Linked DNA regions of Homo sapiens: region 1 is linked to region 2. The links come from fine-mapping of genetic effects on gene expression. A gene starts in region 2. The other region holds a variant in brackets. All regions are shown on one strand. Distances are from middle to middle. Region 1 holds the start of FGA (fibrinogen alpha chain). Region 2 holds the start of FGG (fibrinogen gamma chain).

Evidence for each region.
Region 1: its variant is fine-mapped to the expression of FGG in lung (GTEx, PIP 0.94).

The regions. Positions count from the first base shown.
Region 1 is chr4:154,586,406-154,595,009 of GRCh38, reverse strand. FGA (fibrinogen alpha chain) reads left to right here and starts at 4,268. Exons shown (of 5, transcript NM_021871.4): 1 at 4,268-4,376; 2 at 5,448-5,573; 3 at 6,034-6,217; 4 at 7,353-7,498; 5 at 8,092-8,604. The coding sequence starts at 4,323. The variant A/G (reference allele first, on the strand shown) is at 4,265.
Region 2 is chr4:154,609,216-154,617,819 of GRCh38, reverse strand. FGG (fibrinogen gamma chain) reads left to right here and starts at 5,164. Exons shown (of 9, transcript NM_021870.3): 1 at 5,164-5,288; 2 at 5,385-5,429; 3 at 5,619-5,802; 4 at 5,922-6,015; 5 at 7,623-7,753; 6 at 8,057-8,190. The coding sequence starts at 5,211. RefSeq lists enhancers at 815-964, 3,950-5,122.

The sequences.
Region 1 (8,604 bases), 23 kb after region 2:
TTTGTTTTGTATTTTTAAGTTGTATTTATACAATTGCAAATATATAGATAACTGGTTATATATTTTACTTTTCCTGTGGAAGCTGTGATGAGTAGATATAGTTTAAAACTGAAACATATAGCTATAGAATTTCTACTCTTTCTGTATACATTATATACCACACAAATAAAGCTATTAAAACTAGTAAAAACTATTCTAGTCATGCCAAAAGTTATGGCATAACAAATGTGTAAATTCCTGCATTCAAATGTTTATATTAACATTTATATTTAAATGTTTATATTACATTAACTTCAAAAGGATAGATATATCAAACATCCTTCTCATTAGAGCTAAGGTAAATAGGATGTAGTTATCTATAGGAAAAAGACAAACCTGGTGCAGTAGCTCATGCCTGTAATCCCAGCACTTTGGGAGGCTGAAGTGGGTGGAGCACCTCAGGTCAGGAGTTCAAGACCAGCCTGGTCAACATGGGGAAACCCTATCTCTACTAAAAATACAAAAAATTAGCCAGTCATGGTGGTGGGCACCTGTAATCCCAGCTACTCAGGAGGCTGAGGCAGGAAAATCGCTTGAACCCGGGAGGCAGAGGTTGCAGTAAGCTGAGATGGCGCTGTTGCACTCCAGCCTGGGTGGCAGAGTGAGACTCCATCTCAAAAAGAAAAAGCCAATGCACGGCAGATTATAATTTAAGCAACTGAAAATTTCTTCCATCTTTTTTCCAGTTTTGCACATTTAAAGATACGCTTATTGTCACATGCTTTTTAAAAAATGATACTCGTATCATGCCTATTAATTTGCATGGTTTTCCAGCTAAACAAAACCTACTCCTCCAAAGCTTACAATACAGCCTGTTCATGGGGCAGAGAGCCCAGCCTAGTGAGCAGCCTGCAGTGTGGGGCCAAACAGTGAGCTACAGAAGTGCCTCATTAGGGACTCCTGGTACTACAGTCAAAACAAGGGAACATTTTATCATGGAGCATTGGGATATTCTAGGAACAATAAAAGCTACTGTTTCTAGAGCTCCTGCTGTGTATGGCCAACATTTTACATACACCATTTTACATAATCTTCACAGCAATCCTGTAAGACAAATATCATCATCCCATTTATAGCTCAGAGAATTTAAATAGTTTGCCCATGTCACTTAGCTGGAATCCAGGTCTCACATGCTGGAAAGCCCACCATGCATTGTCACCACCATATGGTGACAGCCTTCCATTTCTCCAGCAGATACTGAGCAGCAATTGCTCTATGCCTGACATTTGTGCCAGTCCTTGTGCCTTGGCCTCAGGAAGCTTTGTGTAGGCAAGACACAGAATAAACAAATACCTTCCCAAATGCACATTGTCCAGGAGTTATAAGGTACTGCGTGGAAAAACCAAGCAGAGTCAATGGAATGACATGCGAGAGTGGCAGCTCTTTAGATCAGGTGGCCAGAGAAGGCCTCTCTGAGTAGATGCCATGTGAGCAGAGGCCAGGAGTAAGAAAGGGTGTGAGATGTGCTGATTCTGAGAGGCAAGGATAAAGCCCTCAGGTGGCATCCTTGGAAACACCCTGACATGGCACTAGGGTGGTGGCATTCAACCAAATTGTTTTCTGTTAATTTACCTTCAATCAGATTATGTTCAGCCGACTCACCTAAGGCCTACCAGGTTACTCTCGGGAACTTCTTTGCTATATACCATGTTCACCTCCCAAAGGGGCACTTCTTGTGGGCATAGGAAAATGTGTGCAGAGATCAAGCCTCACCTTCCTATCTAATCCTGACATTTTGCCAGTGCAGTCATTGTGAGTGAGTGTAACCCAGCTTTTCATGGAATCATTGCCCTCTGGAACCTGGATGGGGCTCTGGGGCTTCCTCTTTGCTCTGCAGTTAACTCTAAAATCATAGCAAGCTGCTTCAGGGGTGAGCTTGATCAGACAAGGAGTCTTCCATAGAGCAGACAGTGCACTGCCTTGCACCAGGGCTTCCATCCATTTATAGAAAGCTTCACACGTCTGCAGTGCTGGGGGAGGCAGCCAGGCAACTTCGCATCTCTGGAACCCACTTATGCTTTCTTGCTCAATGAGGGCCCACACCTTTTGGGGAGAATATAAAGACCAATAAAACATTTCAATTCTCAAGTTTATGATCTAGTGGAGGAGACAGACGGTACTCCTATAATGATAAATGCCATTAGTGGTGCACAGTCTAAGGAAGTATGAAAGAACATGAGATTCCTTTTAATTGGACATTGAATCAGGTACCCTGCAAAATGTCTAGCAAAGAACCCAAGACTTAGTAAACATTCAATACACATTAGCTATTACTCTATTAGGATTGGCTTCATGTAGGAAGCAGAATTTGAGGCAAGGTAGGATTGCCAGATAAAGTACAGGATGTCCAGTAAAGTTTGAATTTCAGATGAACAACAAAAAAATTTTAAGTGTGTCTCAAATATCACATGAGACATACTTATACTCAAATAGATTTGTTGTTTATCTGAAATTCAAATTTAACTGGGACACTCTTATTTTTATTTGCTATTTCCGCCAACCTAATACATCTGGTAAATGTAAGCTGAAGATGTTTTTTACCTTTATTGAAGTATAATTGACAAATAAAAATTGCATAATTTAGGTTGTACAGCTGGATGTTTGTTTTTTTATTTTCCTTTAAAGGGGAACTTCTCTCTGATTGGTGTTTTGATACACATAAACATTGTGAAATGATTACCACTATTAATCTAATTAGCACTTAAAACACCTCATATAGTTATCTTTTTGTGTGGTGAGAAGACTTAAGATCTACCTTTTTAGCAAATTTCAAATATACAGCATAATATTATCAACTATAGTCACCATGCTGCACATTGGACTCCAGAACTTATTTATATTGCATAGCTCAAACTTTGTGCCCTCTAACCAACATCTCCCCCATTTCTCCTATGCCTCAGGCCCTGGCCACCACCATTCTACACTTTTCTTCCGTGAGTTTGACTATTTTAGATTTCACATGTAAGAAAGATCATACAGTATTTGTCTTTCTTTTCCGTTTTTTTTTTTTTTTTTGAGAAGGAGTCTCACTCTGTGGCCCAGGCTGGAGTGCAATGATGCAATCTCGGCTCACTGCAACCTCCTCCACCTCCCGCGTTCAAGTGATTCTCCCTGCCTCAGCCTCCTGAGTAGCTGGGATTACAGGTGCCTGTCACCACGACCAGCTAAGCAGTATTTGTCTGTCTATATCTGCTCATTTCACTTAGGATAATGCCCTCTAGGTTCATCAATGTTACTGCAAATGACAGAATTTCCTTCTTTTTCAAGGCTGAGTAATACTCCATTGTGTATATATATATATACACATTTTCTTTATCTACTCATCCATCAGTGGAAACAGGTTGTTTTCATATCTCGGCTATTGTCAATATAGCTACAATGAACATGGGAATGCAGGTGTCTCTTCAAGATCCTGATTTCATTTCCTTTGGAAATACACTCAGAAATGAGATTGCTAGCACAGAAACAGGAAATAAATGGTATTTTTCATGGCACTTTATGATCTCCCATAATTCACTGAGTATTTCCTATGTGACAGTCACTGTTCTGAGAGATTTACAAGAATTAACTCATTTATTCTTCATAAAAGCATGGGGTAGCTTATCAGCATCCTTATTTTATAAATGAGGAAACTGAAGTATAAAGAGGTAAAGTAACTTGTCCAAGAACATAGAGCAGGGAAGTGGTGCAGCTTGGATTATGAACCCAAGATGTTTTGTTCCTGGGGCTGCTGTCATCTTAATATTTTAAATAGAGAAAAGTAATATGTTCTAAATAAACTTATAGAAAGCCTTCAGGGCCAGCTTATCCCCAAAGTTATTTTTTTTATAAGCCAGATCACCCAACCCTAATTTCTGCATAAAGTGAAATATTGTTTGCTAAATCACTACTACTGGGGGCTACAGCTAGCTTACCTAAGCACCTTCTATATTCTTTCACGTTTAGAAATATGGATATACCCTCCTATGCTCCTCTTTTCATTCTCAAAGCCACCCTGTTCCTGGAATGTGAGATCTCCTAATTGTTGACTGGAGAATCAAATGCTACCTTTGCAACAGCTTATCGGAAGCAAACAAGCTGAGGGGAATTGAGCAAGAATTTCTGGGATACCAACAGCATAGGAGGAACAAAGGACGTAGAGGGAGGGTTGACTGTCTACACAGGACAAAGCCAATGATTAACCAAACCTCTTGCAGATTTAAATAGGATGGGAACTAGGAGTGGC[A/G]GCAATCCTTTCTTTCAGCTGGAGTGCTCCTCAGGAGCCAGCCCCACCCTTAGAAAAGATGTTTTCCATGAGGATCGTCTGCCTGGTCCTAAGTGTGGTGGGCACAGCATGGGTATGGCCCTTTTCATTTTTTCTTCTTGCTTTCTCTCTGGTGTTTATTCCACAAAGAGCCTGGAGGTCAGAGTCTACCTGCTCTATGTCCTGACACACTCTTAGCTTTATGACCCCAGGCCTGGGAGGAAATTTCCTGGGTGGGCTTGACACCTCAAGAATACAGGGTAATATGACACCAAGAGGAAGATCTTAGATGGATGAGAGTGTACAAACTCACAAGGGAAACTTTAGCATCTGTCATTCAGTCTTACCACATTTTGTTTTGTTTTGTTTTAAAAAGGGCAAGAATTATTTGCCATCCTTGTACCTATAAAGCCTTGGTGCATTATAATGCTAGTTAATGGAATAAAACATTTTATGGTAAGATTTGTTTTCTTTAGTTATTAATTTCTTGCTACTTGTCCATAATAAGCAGAACTTTTAGTGTTAGTACAGTTTTGCTGAAAGGTTATTGTTGTGTTTGTCAAGACAGAAGAAAAAGCAAACGAATTATCTTTGGAAATATCTTTGCAGTATCAGAAGAGATTAGTTAGTAAGGCAATACGCTTTTCCGCAGTAATGGTATTCTTTTAAATTATGAATCCATCTCTAAAGGTTACATAGAAACTTGAAGGAGAGAGGAACATTCAGTTAAGATAGTCTAGGTTTTTCTACTGAAGCAGCAATTACAGGAGAAAGAGCTCTACAGTAGTTTTCAACTTTCTGTCTGCAGTCATTAGTAAAAATGAAAAGGTAAAATTTAACTGATTTTATAGATTCAAATAATTTTCCTTTTAGGATGGATTCTTTAAAACTCCTAATATTTATCAAATGCTTATTTAAGTGTCACACACAGTTAAGAAATTTGTACACCTTGTCTCCTTTAATTCTCATAACAACTCCATAAAATGGGTCCTAGGATTTCCATTTGAAGATAAGAAACCTGAAGCTTGCCGAAGCCCTGTGTCTGCTCTCCTTAATCTCTGTGAGAGTGCCATCTCTTCCTGGGGACTTGTAGGCATGCCACTGTCTCCTCTTCTGGCTAACATTGCTGTTGCTCTCTTTTGTGTATGTGAATGAATCTTTAAAGACTGCAGATAGTGGTGAAGGTGACTTTCTAGCTGAAGGAGGAGGCGTGCGTGGCCCAAGGGTTGTGGAAAGACATCAATCTGCCTGCAAAGATTCAGACTGGCCCTTCTGCTCTGATGAAGACTGGGTAAGCAGTCAGCGGGGGAAGCAGGAGATTCCTTCCCTCTGATGCTAGAGGGGCTCACAGGCTGACCTGATTGGTCCCAGAAACTTTTTTAAATAGAAAATAATTGAATAGTTACCTACATAGCAAATAAAGAAAAGGAACCTACTCCCAAGAGCACTGTTTATTTACCTCCCCAACTCTGGATCATTAGTGGGTGAACAGACAGGATTTCAGTTGCATGCTCAGGCAAAACCAGGCTCCTGAGTATTGTGGCCTCAATTTCCTGGCACCTAATTTATGGCTAAGTGGACCCTCATTCCAGAGTTTCTCTGCGACCTCTAACTAGTCCTCTTACCTACTTTTAAGCCAACTTATCTGGAAGAGATAGGGTAGGAAGAAATGGGGGCTGCATGGAAACATGCAAAATTATTCTGAATCTGAGAGATAGATCCTTACTGTAATTTTCTCCCTTCACTTTCAGAACTACAAATGCCCTTCTGGCTGCAGGATGAAAGGGTTGATTGATGAAGTCAATCAAGATTTTACAAACAGAATAAATAAGCTCAAAAATTCACTATTTGAATATCAGAAGAACAATAAGGATTCTCATTCGTTGACCACTAATATAATGGAAATTTTGAGAGGCGATTTTTCCTCAGCCAATAGTAAGTATTACATATTTACTGCTTTGACTTTATAACAGAAACAACAAAAATCCTAAATAAATATGATATCCGCTTATATCTATGACAATTTCATCCCAAAGTACTTAGTGTAGAAACACATACCTTCATAATATCCCTGAAAATTTTAAGAGGGAGCTTTTGTTTTCGTTATTTTTTCAAAGTAAAAGATGTTAACTGAGATTGTTTAAGGTCACAAAATAAGTCAGAATTTTGGATTAAAAACAAGAATTTAAATGTGTTCTTTTCAACAGTATATACTGAAAGTAGGATGGGTCAGACTCTTTGAGTTGATATTTTTGTTTCTGCTTTGTAAAGGTGAAAACTGAGAGGTCAAGGAACTTGTTCAAAGACACAGAGCTGGGAATTCAACTCCCAGACTCCACTGAGCTGATTAGGTAGATTTTTAAATTTAAAATATAGGGTCAAGCTACGTCATTCTCACAGTCTACTCATTAGGGTTAGGAAACATTGCATTCACTCTGGGCATGGACAGCGAGTCTAGGGAGTCCTCAGTTTCTCAAGTTTTGCTTTGCCTTTTTACACCTTCACAAACACTTGACATTTAAAATCAGTGATGCAACACTAGCTGGCAAGTGAGTGATCCTGTTGACCCAAAACAGCTTAGGAACCATTTCAAATCTATAGATTAAAAAGAAAAGCTCATCAGTAAGAAAATCCAATATGTTCAAGTCCCTTGATTAAGGATGTTATAAAATAATTGAAATGCAATCAAACCAACTATTTTAACTCCAAATTACACCTTTAAAATTCCAAAGAAAGTTCTTCTTCTATATTTCTTTGGGATTACTAATTGCTATTAGGACATCTTAACTGGCATTCATGGAAGGCTGCAGGGCATAACATTATCCAAAAGTCAAATGCCCCATAGGTTTTGAACTCACAGATTAAACTGTAACCAAAATAAAATTAGGCATATTTACAAGCTAGTTTCTTTCTTTCTTTTTTCTCTTTCTTTCTTTCTTTCTTTCTTTCTTTCTTTCTTTCTTTCTTTCTTTCTTTCTTTCTCCTTCCTTCCTTTCTTCCTTTCTTTTTTGCTGGCAATTACAGACAAATCACTCAGCAGCTACTTCAATAACCATATTTTCGATTTCAGACCGTGATAATACCTACAACCGAGTGTCAGAGGATCTGAGAAGCAGAATTGAAGTCCTGAAGCGCAAAGTCATAGAAAAAGTACAGCATATCCAGCTTCTGCAGAAAAATGTTAGAGCTCAGTTGGTTGATATGAAACGACTGGAGGTAAGTATGTGGCTGTGGTCCCAGATGTCCTTGTTTCTGAGTAGAGGGAAAAGGAAGGCGATAGTTATGCACTGAGTGTCTACTATATGCAGAGAAAAGTGTTATATCCATCATCTACCTAAAAGTAGGTATTATTTTCCTCACTCCACAGTTGAAGAAAAAAAATTCAGAGATATTAAGTAAATTTTCCAACGGTACATAGATAGTAAATTTCAAAAGCAAATGTTCAGTCCCTGTCTAATTCCAAAGCCCATTACATCACCACACCTCTGAGCCCTCAGCCTGAGTTTCACCAAGGATCATTTAATTAGCGTTTCCTTTGAGAGGGAATAGCACCTTACTCTTGATCCATTCTGAGGCTAAGATGAATTAAACAGCATCCATTGCTTATCCTGGCTAGCCCTGCAATACCCAACATCTCTTCCACTGAGGGTGCTCGATAGGCAGAAAACAGAGAATATTAAGTGGTAGGTCTCCGAGTCAAAAAAAATGAAACCAGTTTCCAGAAGGAAAATTAACTACCAGGAACTCAATAGACGTAGTTTATGTATTTGTATCTACATTTTCTCTTTATTTTTCTCCCCTCTCTCTAGGTGGACATTGATATTAAGATCCGATCTTGTCGAGGGTCATGCAGTAGGGCTTTAGCTCGTGAAGTAGATCTGAAGGACTATGAAGATCAGCAGAAGCAACTTGAACAGGTCATTGCCAAAGACTTACTTCCCTCTAGAGATAGGCAACACTTACCACTGATAAAAATGAAACCAGTTCCAGACTTGGTTCCCGGAAATTTTAAGAGCCAGCTTCAGAAGGTACCCCCAGAGTGGAAGGCATTAACAGACATGCCGCAGATGAGAATGGAGTTAGAGAGACCTGGTGGAAATGAGATTACTCGAGGAGGCTCCACCTCTTATGGAACCGGATCAGAGACGGAAAGCCCCAGGAACCCTAGCAGTGCTGGAAGCTGGAACTCTGGGAGCTCTGGACCTGGAAGTACTGGAAACCGAAACCCTGGGAGCTCTGGGACTGGAGGGACTGCAACCTGGAAACCTGGGAGCTCTGGACCTGGAAGTACTGGAAGCTGGAACTCTGGGAGCTCTGGAACT
Region 2 (8,604 bases):
GTGCAATTACACTAAGACAATAAACTAACCCAAGTAGTTAGAATTTAAAACAAAGATCTAAATCTTATAAATGTTTTGTTTGTCCTCATTCAAAATTGCAGGTTAAAGCAAATGTGTGCGTTAAGCTAGATAAGATGACTGAATTGCTTTGATGATCTGATAGCATTCTCTGTTCTTCTTATTTTCTCTCCTTCTTTAGAAATATATATATATTCCTCCAAAGATAGTTTATATGACAAAATAACTACAGTTTTTCTCAAACAGGGGCCTGTCCACTTTCAACATAGGCCAGTATTTCTACTCAAAGGCTTAAAAAGTTTCTTCTTTCCGGAGCACATTCTTGTGAATATAACTTGGCCCCTTGGTTGGTGGTGGTTTATTTTTCCCCCCAAACTCATTTGCTCTTGTAAATCTCCTGCTAATCATATTTAGTCATGAAAATTCTTTCATGGGGTGAGAGATTTAAAATCGTAGATTACACAAAGATGGAAAAACACAAACAAACCAGTAGCAGATACCAATGTGGCACAGCAAAACACTTAAATCCAACTTCTCTGTTCAATTTGTCTCAATCCAGGGCACCTCAGATCATTCCTTAGTCTCAAACTAGTATTAAAAATGGCTAATTTCCAGCCTCTTTGGCCTCTGTAATTGCCAATGGGATAATCCTTCTTTCTCTAGGCACCCAGTACTTTATTTCCTAAATTCCAATCACAGCAGAGATTTTTCAACATCCCTGCCGCTAGGACAGATCCCCCAAATGACACATGTAATGAAACTTTATGAAGTTAAGAAGTGCAAAACTCAACCTGTGGGTGCTGTTCTGCTGCCAGTGAGGGAGTCCATTTTACTTGTGCCCAATGTTGTTTTTGTCTTTGATTTACATAGTGAAACTAAAAGCACATTGTTCACAGACTACCAAGAAACTTTTGCGTTTTCACTTTCCCTGGGCTATTTTTATACACAAAGCAAATATTCTAACAGACAACTCTGTTGCCCTTAATGGGATATTTTTACTATTAGGTTGGACTGGCTTTCAGTATGCCAATAGGTCATTTTCTTTCTGCCAGTTTTTAGGAAATCCAGTTCTGAGGGTTCAGGCTATAAATTTAGCTTAGATCTAGAAATGGTTTACTTGTTAGAAAAACAGATATATCATTGTCGCCATTGATTTGAGCTTCCTTGACCACGCAGTGGCTGTCTCTCCCTTTAACTTACTGATGGAATTCAATTTATCAAGTCCTATTAAACTTGAACCATGCAGTTAGCATTGAAAAACTGCTTCCATCTAAAATTGGACTGAAGCCAGGTGCATTGGCACGTGCCCATAGTCCGAGCTACTCAGGAGGCTGAGGCAAGAGGATCACTTGGGCCCAGCAGTTCAGTTTGAGGCCAGACTGAGCAACAAAGCTAGGCTGCATCTCTAAAGAGAGAGAAAAAAAAAAAAGGACCATAAACACAAGCTAATCATAAAACAACACAAATCTAGGTTTGAGAAATACTCAAAGACTGTAAAAGATCATTCACAAAATCTTGTCTCTAACCCAGAGAAGAAGATAGATAAGTTGGTAGATAGATGTAAATGTGTGTTCAAATAATCATGCACACAGTTATGTAGATGCACACACACATCTTTAAAATCCATTCTATCAGTGAATAACTTTGAGTCTCATAACACCTTGTATCTGTGTATTATTTTAAATTAAGAAGGGCTTCATGGTTGTATTAAGATTCATGGTTAAGAGCACAGGCATTGGGCCCCATGGGTTTGAGTTCCTGTTCTGGCACACTGACCCTGCATATGTTACACAACATCTCTAGGCCTTTCTTTTTTCATTATAAGATACAGGTAATTATATCTACTTCCTAGGCTTGTGGTGAGGATTAAATGAGAGAATATACATGACAACAAAAACTATACTACCACATAATATCTAGCATAAAGAAGATGCTCAAAATTGGTAGTTCTTTCTATTATTCCTTAGGGCTATATCATTTGTCACTAGGTCAAGAAGTCTTCTACATAATCAAATTTAAATTCAGCAAATAATTTTGGAGCAAAGATGAATGTAACAGACTTGGCTCACAGAGTAAATTACCAATATACACGAAGACTGTTAGCTGTAGATTTGTGTTTTCAAATCAGAACACAAACGGTTGGACGATAGGGAATTTGGGACATTATTATTTCAATAAACAAGCCCACTGACCTCAGAGTTACAGTAAATGATTATTTTGGCTTAAATACTACCTATGCTATTATCTCAAAAAACATACCTGGAAGTAGAAGAACTGTGATTTAAGAAACATTCTTCATTCCTGGAATTCATCAATCATTTATCATTTTTCAAAGAAAAAATTGGCCCAAACATGAAAAAACTAGTTAAAATTTAATAAACCTAAGTGATACTAGATTGAATGCAGGGCCAATGTAGACCGCTAAATCACTGTTGACCATTTTTTTTTCTCAGAGAGCAAGCATCTTGTCTTATATGATTTGGATTTAGGACTTGAGATTGTAGTAAAAGGAAATTATTTTCTCTAAAATTGTGATAACACATCTGGATTCCAATATAAGTCAGTTAAAAGCCTGTAATACAAGTATTCCACTTCTAAAATGGGATAAGATAGAATTTCTAATGTCCTCAATTTAAATGTTTATCAACTTTGTGAATATTATATATCTTAACACAACCAATGAAACTTTATGACATTAAGGAGCTCAGAACCCAACCTGTGGCTGCATGAATTGTTACCCTAAATTCAACAAACTAATATTTTATGGTCTTCAGCAAAAAGAACCACAAAGACATGCTCTGTCTAAACACACTTTGCTTGAACATTCTTACAGATAGGAAGTATACCTTCTCACAAGGCATGCAATCCATTTATATTATCATTTGATCTTTGATTGGTAAAATCAATTTGGATAGAATTTCCTAAACTAAACGACCAGGTGCTTTCTTCTCTGGGGAATCTTACAGAAGGAGACTGCAGTTAGTTGCAACAGATTTTTTATTAAAGAGAATTTCTGTAGCTAGAACAACAAAGCTTGTTCCCTGTGAACCAAATCTACCAATAATAGCTCTATTAAAAGAGTTTCCTATTTACATAGATTTTATACCAAATATATTTGGTAATTCATAAACCTTACAAACATTTACTTAACACTTACCATGAATTGGGTAATGTGCTCAACACATTATCCCACTAAATCTTAGTAATAGCCCTATTAAGTAAATACCATATCATAAGTATTATCTCTCTTTTACTGACATGGATAATGGAACTCAAGGAGATTGAGTAACTTGTACTGAATCACACAGCCAGTAAATTGTAAAGATGGGACTCAAACCTAGGGAGATGGACTCCAGAGCCTTAACAACTATTTATTTATACATTCTCCAATTGAGCTACACACTTCTTGAAGGCAAAGGCAATGCCTGAGTCACCTTTCATGTTCAAATCATATTAAAAAGTTAGCAAGATGTAATTATCAGTGTACTATGTAAATCTTTGTGAATGATCAATAATTACATATTTTCATTATATATATTTTAGTAGATAATATTTATATACATTCAACATTCTAAATATAGAAAGTTTACAGAGAAAAATAAAGCCTTTTTTTCCAATCCTGTCCTCCACCTCTGCATCCCATTCTTCTTCACAGAGGCAACTGATTCAAGTCATTACATAGTTATTGAGTGTTAACTACAACTATGTTAAGTACAGCTATATATGTTAGATGCCGTAGCCACAGAAATCAGTTTACAATCTAATGCAGTGGATACAGCATGTATACATATAATATAAGGTTGCTACAAATGCTATCTGAGGTAGAGCTGTTTGAAAGAATACTAATACTTAAATGTTTAATTCAACTGACTTGATTGACAACTGATTAGCTGAGTGGAAAAGATGGATGAGAAAGATTGTGAGACTTAATTGGCTGGTGGTATGGTGATATGATTGACAATAACTGCTAAGTCAGAGAGGGATATATTAAGGAGGAGAAGAAAAGCAACAAATCTGGTTTTGATGTGTTCACTTTGTTATAATTATTGATTATTTACTGAATATGAATATTTATCTTTGTTTTTGAGTCAATAAATATACCTTTGTAAAGACAGAATTAAAGTATTAGTATTTCTTTCAAACTGGAGGCATTTCTCCCACTAACATATTTCATCAAAACTTATAATAAGCTTGGTTCCAGAGGAAGAAATGAGGGATAACCAAAAATAGAGACATTAATAATAGTGTAACGCCCAGTGATAAATCTCAATAGGCAGTGATGACAGACATGTTTTCCCAAACACAAGGATGCTGTAAGGGCCAAACAGAAATGATGGCCCCTCCCCAGCACCTCATTTTGCCCCTTCCTTCAGCTATGCCTCTACTCTCCTTAGATACAAGGGAGGTGGATTTTTCTCTTCTCTGAGATAGCTTGATGGAACCACAGGAACAATGAAGTGGGCTCCTGGCTCTTTTCTCTGTGGCAGATGGGGTGCCATGCCCACCTTCAGACAAAGGGAAGATTGAGCTCAAAAGCTCCCTGAGAAGTGAGAGCCTATGAACATGGTTGACACAGAGGGACAGGAATGTATTTCCAGGGTCATTCATTCCTGGGAATAGTGAACTGGGACATGGGGGAAGTCAGTCTCCTCCTGCCACAGCCACAGATTAAAAATAATAATGTTAACTGATCCCTAGGCTAAAATAATAGTGTTAACTGATCCCTAAGCTAAGAAAGTTCTTTTGGTAATTCAGGTGATGGCAGCAGGACCCATCTTAAGGATAGACTAGGTTTGCTTAGTTCGAGGTCATATCTGTTTGCTCTCAGCCATGTACTGGAAGAAGTTGCATCACACAGCCTCCAGGACTGCCCTCCTCCTCACAGCAATGGATAATGCTTCACTAGCCTTTGCAGATAATTTTGGATCAGAGAAAAAACCTTGAGCTGGGCCAAAAAGGAGGAGCTTCAACCTGTGTGCAAAATCTGGGAACCTGACAGTATAGGTTGGGGGCCAGGATGAGGAAAAAGGAACGGGAAAGACCTGCCCACCCTTCTGGTAAGGAGGCCCCGTGATCAGCTCCAGCCATTTGCAGTCCTGGCTATCCCAGGAGCTTACATAAAGGGACAATTGGAGCCTGAGAGGTGACAGTGCTGACACTACAAGGCTCGGAGCTCCGGGCACTCAGACATCATGAGTTGGTCCTTGCACCCCCGGAATTTAATTCTCTACTTCTATGCTCTTTTATTTCTCTCTTCAACATGTGTAGCAGTAAGTGTGCTCTTCACAAAACGTTGTTTAAAATGGAAAGCTGGAAAATAAAACAGATAATAAACTAGTGAAATTTCTGTATTTTTTCTCTTTTAGTATGTTGCTACCAGAGACAACTGCTGCATCTTAGATGAAAGATTCGTAAGTAGTTTTTATGTTTCTCCCTTTGTGTGTGAACTGGAGAGGGGCAGAGGAATAGAAATAATTCCCTCATAAATATCATCTGGCACTTGTAACTTTTTAAAAACATAGTCTAGGTTTTACCTATTTTTCTTAATAGATTTTAAGAGTAGCATCTGTCTACATTTTTAATCACTGTTATATTTTCAGGGTAGTTATTGTCCAACTACCTGTGGCATTGCAGATTTCCTGTCTACTTATCAAACCAAAGTAGACAAGGATCTACAGTCTTTGGAAGACATCTTACATCAAGTTGAAAACAAAACATCAGAAGTCAAACAGCTGATAAAAGCAATCCAACTCACTTATAATCCTGATGAATCATCAAAACCAAGTGAGAAAATAAAGACTACTGACCAAAAAATAATAATAATAATCTGTGAAGTTCTTTTGCTGTTGTTTTAGTTGTTCTATTTGCTTAAGGATTTTTATGTCTCTGATCCTATATTACAGATATGATAGACGCTGCTACTTTGAAGTCCAGGAAAATGTTAGAAGAAATTATGAAATATGAAGCATCGATTTTAACACATGACTCAAGTATTCGGTAAGGATTTTTGTTTTAATTTGCTCTGCAAGACTGATTTAGTTTTTATTTAATATTCTATACTTGAGTGAAAGTAATTTTTAATGTGTTTTCCCCATTTATAATATCCCAGTGACATTATGCCTGATTATGTTGAGCATAGTAGAGATAGAAGTTTTTAGTGCAATATAAATTATACTGGGTTATAATTGCTTATTAATAATCACATTGAAGAAAGATGTTCTAGATGTCTTCAAATGCTAGTTTGACCATATTTATCAAAAATTTTTTCCCCATCCCCCATTTATCTTACAACATAAAATCAATCTCATAGGAATTTGGGTGTTGAAAATAAAATCCTCTTTATAAAAATGCTGACAAATTGGTGGTTAAAAAAATTAGCAAGCAGAGGCATAGTAAGGATTTTGGCTCCTAAAGTAAATTATATTGAATGTGGAGCAGGAAGAAACATGTCTTGAGAGACTAAGTGTGGCAAATATTGCAAAGCTCATATTGATCATTGCAGAATGAACCTGCATAGTCTCTTCCCTTCATTTGGAAGTGAATGTCTCTGTTAAAGCTTCTCAGGGACTCATAAACTTTCTGAACATAAGGTCTCAGATACAGTTTTAATATTTTTCCCCAATTTTTTTTTCTGAATTTTTCTCAAAGCAGCTTGAGAAATTGAGATAAATAGTAGCTAGGGAGAAGTGGCCCAGGAAAGATTTCTCCTCTTTTTGCTATCAGAGGGCCCTTGTTATTATTGTTATTATTATTACTTGCATTATTATTGTCCATCATTGAAGTTGAAGGAGGTTATTGTACAGAAATTGCCTAAGACAAGGTAGAGGGAAAACGTGGACAAATAGTTTGTCTACCCTTTTTTACTTCAAAGAAAGAACGGTTTATGCATTGTAGACAGTTTTCTATCATTTTTGGATATTTGCAAGCCACCCTGTAAGTAACTACAAAAGGAGGGTTTTTACTTCCCCCAGTCCATTCCCAAAGCTATGTAACCAGAAGCATTAAAGAAGAAAGGGGAAGTATCTGTTGTTTTATTTTACATACAATAACGTTCCAGATCATGTCCCTGTGTAAGTTATATTTTAGATTGAAGCTTATATGTATAGCCTCAGTAGATCCACAAGTGAAAGGTATACTCCTTCAGCACATGTGAATTACTGAACTGAGCTTTTCCTGCTTCTAAAGCATCAGGGGGTGTTCCTATTAACCAGTCCCGCCACTCTTGCAGGTTGCTATCTGCTGTCCCTTATGCATAAAGTAAAAAGCAAAATGTCAATGACATTTGCTTATTGACAAGGACTTTGTTATTTGTGTTGGGAGTTGAGACAATATGCCCCATTCTAAGTAAAAAGATTCAGGTCCACATTGTATTCCTGTTTTAATTGATTTTTTGATTTGTTTTTCTTTTTCAAAAAGTTTATAATTTTAATTCATGTTAATTTAGTAATATAATTTTACATTTTCCTCAAGAATGGAATAATTTATCAGAAAGCACTTCTTAAGAAAATACTTAGCAGTTTCCAAAGAAAATATAAAATTACTCTTCTGAAAGGAATACTTATTTTTGTCTTCTTATTTTTGTTATCTTATGTTTCTGTTTGTAGATATTTGCAGGAAATATATAATTCAAATAATCAAAAGATTGTTAACCTGAAAGAGAAGGTAGCCCAGCTTGAAGCACAGTGCCAGGAACCTTGCAAAGACACGGTGCAAATCCATGATATCACTGGGAAAGGTAACTGATGAAGGTTATATTGGGATTAGGTTCATCAAAGTAAGTAATGTAAAGGAGAAAGTATGTACTGGAAAGTATAGGAATAGTTTAGAAAGTGGCTACCCATTAAGTCTAAGAATTTCAGTTGTCTAGACCTTTCTTGAATAGCTAAAAAAAACAGTTTAAAAGGAATGCTGATGTGAAAAGTAAGAAAATTATTCTTGGAAAATGAATAGTTTACTACATGTTAAAAGCTATTTTTCAAGGCTGGCACAGTCTTACCTGCATTTCAAACCACAGTAAAAGTCGATTCTCCTTCTCTAGATTGTCAAGACATTGCCAATAAGGGAGCTAAACAGAGCGGGCTTTACTTTATTAAACCTCTGAAAGCTAACCAGCAATTCTTAGTCTACTGTGAAATCGATGGGTCTGGAAATGGATGGACTGTGTTTCAGAAGGTAATTTTTTCCCCACCATGTGTATTTAATAAATTCCTACATTGTTTCTGCCATATGGCAGATACTTTTCTAAGCACCTTGTGAACCGTAGCTCATTTAATCCTTGCAATAGCCCTAAGAGGAAGGTACTTCTGTTACTCCTATTTACAGAAAAGGAAACTGAGGCACACAAGGTTAAATAACTTGCCCAAGACCACATAACTAATAAGCAACAGAGTCAGCATTTGAACCTAGGCAGTATAGTTTCAGAGTTTGTGACTTGACTCTATATTGTACTGGCACTGACTTTGTAGATTCATGGTGGCACATAATCATAGTACCACAGTGACAAATAAAAAGAAGGAAACTCTTTTGTCAGGTAGGTCAAGACCTGAGGTTTCCCATCACAAGATGAGGAAGCCCAACACCACCCCC